Regions from separate parts of the Homo sapiens genome. Here region 2 is linked to region 1. A link means that fine-mapping ties the variant in region 1 to the expression of a gene that starts in the linked region. Tissue or cell type: whole blood. Region 1 holds a variant in brackets; the other region holds the start of a gene. All regions are shown on one strand. Distances are between the middles of the regions.

Evidence for each region. PIP is the estimated chance that this variant, and not a neighbour inherited with it, causes the effect.
Region 2: it holds the start of TRABD2A, and the variant in region 1 is fine-mapped to the expression of TRABD2A in whole blood (INTERVAL, PIP above 0.99).

The regions. Positions count from the first base shown.
Region 1 is chr2:84,798,612-84,801,111 of GRCh38, reverse strand. All of the region lies in intron 70 of DNAH6 (dynein axonemal heavy chain 6), which reads right to left. Among named protein-coding and RNA genes, the nearest start is that of TRABD2A, 81 kb to the left of the region's middle. The variant G/A (reference allele first, on the strand shown) is at 999.
Region 2 is chr2:84,879,678-84,882,421 of GRCh38, reverse strand. TRABD2A (TraB domain containing 2A) reads left to right here and starts at 1,338. Exons shown (of 7, transcript NM_001277053.2): 1 at 1,338-1,490. The coding sequence starts at 1,383. RefSeq lists a silencer at 1,234-1,363 and enhancers at 1,093-1,593, 1,594-2,096.

The DNA of each region.
Region 1 (2,500 bases):
CCCTCCCCCCACCCCACCACAGTCCCCAGAGTGTGATATTCCCCTTCCTGTGTCCATGTGATCTCATTGTTCAATTCCCACCTATGAGTGAGAATATGGGGTGTTTGGTTTTTTGTTCTTGCGATAGTTTACTGAGAATGATGATTTCCAATTTCATCCATGTCCCTACAAAGGACATGAACTCATCATGTTTTATGGCTGCATAGTATTCCATGGTGAATATGTGCCACATTTTCTTAATCCAGTCTATCATTGTTGGACATTTGGGTTGGTTCCAAGTCTTTGCTATTGTGAATAATACTTTCTTTTCTCTCCAAGGAATGATAATAAATGGTAGATTTAGTCACTTTACATAATCTCATATTTCTCAGAGCCTTTGCTCATTTTTTAAAAAATTCTCTTTTCTTTATTTTTTTCTGACTGGGTTGATTCAAAGGACCAAACTTTGAGCTCTGAAATTCATTCTTCTGCTTGGTCTAATCTGTTGTTAAGACTTCCAGTTTCATTTTGATACTCCCGTAGTGAGATTTTCAATTTCAGAAGCTCTGTTTGGTTCTTTCTTAATATAGCTGTATCATCTTTCAAACCTTGGATTATTTCTCTGGCTTCTTTGCATTGGATTTCAACTTTCTCTTGGATCTCATTGAGTTTCCTTGTCATACATATTCTGAATTCTGTATCTATTATTTCAGACATTTCAATCTGAATAGGATCCATTGCTAGGGAACTAGTGTGATCCTTTGGAGGTAACAAAGCACTCTGGCTTTTTGTATTGCTGAAGTTCTTGTGCTGATTTCTTCTTATCTGAAGGAATTGATGCCTCTTTATCTTTTTGAATTTGCTTGTTTGGATGGAGTTTTTTGACATTTTATTCTTTTTTTTCCTGGAGGATATGACTGTGGTGTATGTTGTGTACAATCAATTGGCTTTGTTTCTGGGTGCTTTCAGAGGGGCAAGGCTCTATATGGGTTCTTTGGTTACATAGAGGTTTGTGCAGT[G/A]TGTTTGACAGGCATTGCTTGTAGCAATGTTATTTTTGTTTGGTATTGTAATTCAGGCTGTAGTCCTGGCTTAAAAGAGCCAGCACATAGGCTCTTAGCTGCAATAGCCCTCAGTGGGGGTGGAGGCAACAGAGAAGCATGCTCCTCCAACTCACAGTTACTTTCAGCAGGGTGGGTCCAATGGAGAATCACAGAAAAGCAGCTTACTGAAGTACACACACTTACCAGGCCCCAACAGGAAGGGCTCCAATGGGAATGTGGGTGAGGGTGGAAAATGAGAGACGCTCCCTCTTTAAGTCCATTCCTAGGCCTTGGTGGTGTCTCTTTTAGTGGCTGGCATCACACCCCCATTTCCTTTTTCCCAAGTGGGGCTTTGGTGGAGTGCGCTCCCTCCTTTCTTAGGGGTGCTTTGCACCAAAGACTGTCTCTAGAAGACCATTTACTCCTTAGGTAACTGCCTATCCCCTGTGCTTGCCAAAGTTAGAGTGAGTTGTGGAGTATGTCTGCAGGTGGTTTGGTGATGCAGTTGTTCAAAGGTGGAGACTCCCTGGACAGGTTAGTGGCACTGCCAGTGTACAACCAATATGGCACCTGCTGCCTAGGCTTCTCAGCCCAGCGGATGGTTGTGGGGCCTGCCCAGCTCATGTTCCCTGACCTGGTGGGTCTCCCTCCAGTCTCTGCCCAAGTAGCAGGCCCAACCAGCTAGGCTTGTCCCAAGCCATTTTTGTCCAGATCACTGAGCCAGCCCAGGCATTCTGGGCTATGGAACTCAGTAAGGGAAAAGTGGTGGCTGTTAGGCCATGCTCATCCTGGAAAAAGAGGGGTGGGCTGGGCGCAGTGGCTCATGCCTGTAATCCCAGCACTTTGGGAGGCCGAGGCAGGTGGATCGCCTGAGGTCAGGAATTCGAGACCAGCCTGGTCAACATGGTGAAACCCTGTCTCTACTAAAAACACAAAAATTAGCTGGGCATGATGACAGCCACCTGTAATCCCAGCTACTTGGGAGGCTGAGGCAGGAGAACTGCTCAAACCTGGGAGGTGGAGGTTGCAGTGAGCTGAGATTGTGCCACTGCACTCTAGCCTGAATGACAGAGCGAGACTCCGTCTCAAAAAAAAAAAAAAAAAGGAAAGAAAAAAAGAGGAGTGACCAGCTCCCTTGCTGGCATACAAACCTATGCCATATTCTTCCTTGTGTTCCCCTACTCGAGCTCAGGCCACAGATATCAACTTGATATCCCTGGGTGGTGTGCTTGAGTCCTGGGGAGTTGGGACCAGAACTGTGGATTTTTCCCCTGGCCCCTAGGGGTCAAGCACTGGCTGTGATGGGGGTGGTGAACTACTCCTGGGCTGCCAATAAAACACTCAGGCAGGGCCGTGGAGGCTGTGCTGTGGGCACTCTCCCACAGGAGCGGCCTCAGAGGTGGTCTTGGGAGGGGCCAGCAGGCAAAGGGGTGCATGGAATAGATGCACTTTGGGCCTGTAGCAGTGGTGGTGGGGCCTGT
Region 2 (2,744 bases), 81 kb before region 1:
GTCTCACTTTGTGGCCCAGGCTGGAGTGCAGTGGTTCGATCTTAGCTCAGGGCAACTTACGTTCTTGATGCTTTTTGCTTTTCCCCCTCACAACCGAAAGAGAAAGTTTTTGCCAGCAGGTGGCAGCGCTGGTGCCTGAAAACGCCAAAAAGCATCGTCCTGGGTTGGCCCGGAGACTAACGATTGCCGCCGGGCTGACACGGGGCAGTCATCTGAAGACAGGAGACAGTCAATTCCAGAAAGCAAATCCCCACTCAAACTTAGAAAAAAGCGATTTTACAAAAACATCTGAACTCTAAATGTTGGTGGAGTTAAATCTCGAAAGACTTGGCTCTTCAAAGCCAGGGGTTCTTTACGGGAAAGTTGGAAATGGGCTTCAGAAAACCTCTCCCCGCATTGTATGCAAATCTGCCCCCCCCCTTTTCTTTTTCCCTGGGAGATCGTCCAGTTATCAGATTCTCAAAATGGACAGCGACTTAAAGCAATTAAAGACCACTGCGACAAATGCTCCTGCGAACACCACTCCGAAGTTAATGGCGCAGACGTCTGGACTTTAAAAGGTGGTGGTAAAGTGCGCTCAGGCATGGGTAGGAGGTGCGGCAGGCGGGGCACAGCTACTTGCTTTCATAATTTTTTTTTCTTCCTGATGGACCAATGCTGTGAAAAATCCTCAGTGGGGTTTTGGAGCCGAAAGGGAGCGACTGCAGTTTGCAGGCTTGCTATGTGTGCCAATCAAGGTGTTTCTCATAAATTTCCTCTTTTAATCCTTGCGGCAATCCTCTGAGTTCGGTGTTAACATCCTTAATATTATTCCTAAAAATCCATTAAGAGGGCTCTTAATGGAGTGCCAGCTTTTGTGGTCCTGGATTTTCAGTGGATGCACACACTGACCATTCCCCTCTCTCTTTTACATTCAAAACTTCCGTGAGATTTCCTTTGTTTAAATGAACTTTCCTTTATAGATAGCCTTTCATTTGTTTATTTTGTCTGCCTCTTTCAATCAAGAGGCACCCTCCCCTCACAATCGGCAGCATAAGCACAGACGTAAACGCAGGAACCAATGCGATTTTAGGTTGAATTTAGGACAGCGCTGGAACTTCACTTTACCCCTCTTGCGGTCACACGAGGTGGGCGGCGGCCCCGGCAGGGTTTGGGCGGGAGAAACGCGGTTCGGGACTCCGCTGCCGCCTAGGCGCGGGGCTGACCTGCGGGGGTGGGGTGGGGGGAGGGAGGTCGAGGCCCGGCCCCACGTGGCCGCTGCTGCCGGGCTCACCCCAGCCCCGCCCGGAGGCGCCCCGCGGCCCCGGCTAGCCAGGGCGGGCGGCCACCTCTGCCCTACTCCTTCCCTCCGCGTTCCGGGCCTCGGAGCCGCCTTGAGGAGGATGAGTCCCTGGAGCTGGTTCCTGCTGCAGACCCTCTGCCTCCTGCCCACGGGCGCAGCTTCGCGGCGCGGGGCGCCCGGCACCGCCAACTGCGAGCTCAAGCCCCAAGTAAGGCGCGCGTCGGGTGCTGGAGAGCCGGCCTCTCTGCACCTCCTTGGGATGGTTTCCCTCCGAACCCCGCGAAGCAGCGCTTTCGGACCCCGAGCCGACTTCCGCGGCTGGGCTTTCACCTAGCACCGCGGCGCTCCTTGCTCGCTCTCCTCTCCGTGCCCTCGGGTTCCCCTTTCCCGCGGGGGCGCAGCCCGCAGGCTCCAAGCGACTCAGTGCCCTGGCCTTTGCCCTCCGCCAGCCCAAGGGCGTCCGAGAGAGCCTCTGGGGTCTCGCCAGCCATTTTCGCGAGCTTTCGGGGGACGGATCCGCCAGGGAGTACCGGACCAGGAACTTGGGCACATTTATTTGAAGTTTCTTCTTCCCTCTCTTCCTTAAGAGTTTAATTTCACCTGCTCTTATCAAAATATTAACAGCGCCCTGAAGCTGCTTGGCTTAACCTTCATATGTTCAGTGCCTGAGTTAGAAGGGACTTTAGGGAGTTGAAGCCATTTCCCTTGTTTTTACCGATCTGGGAAACTGACACTCAGCGGGGGACCTGTGTGCTCCAGGTCACAGAGTGCGTTCGCGGAGTGACCACTGTCCGAGCCTTGCGTGTCCAGCCGGGCGCTTTAGATGTTCGCATCAACGTTTTGTGGGTGAGGGAAACCCAGGCAAGGGAGGCTCAGTGACCTGCCCGAGTCAACACAGCTCTATAGCGGACAGGTCTTGCGTCTCCGAGGCTGGACCTCTTTCGAGATGAATATTTCCTTCTCTGATCAGTTTTCCTACACTCAGAATTTTCTGTGGTTCTCGAGTCCCTCTCTTCTGAGTGCGGCATAGGTTGAATTTCGCGCATTTGTTCCGGTGGGTTTGATATCTGTGCGTCCCTGGCTCTGGAGAGGGCCATGCCAGGCTTATCCTTCTGGTGCGCCCGCGACGCGGGGGTGGGGGGGGTTGGGGGTGGGTTGAGGGAGTGGGGGCTGGAATTTAGAGGCCCACCTTTGATGACACCTGCGCAGCTCCCCGGTCTGCCTCCACCCCTGGCCATTCGCAATTTTATTCCTCATCCCAACTGCAGCAAAGCAGAGGACGGCCAAATAGAGCCGATCCTGGAGCTCCGGGCTGGGAAGACGCACGGTGTTCGCCTCTGTAAGGCGTCGCGGGGCTGCGGACGGCCCTCTACCAAGGCAGGAGGCGCGGCAGCTGGAGAGGGGAGTCTGCACCAGGCATGGTTTCAAACTCTGTTGCGGTGTGGCCGCTTCATGCTTGTTA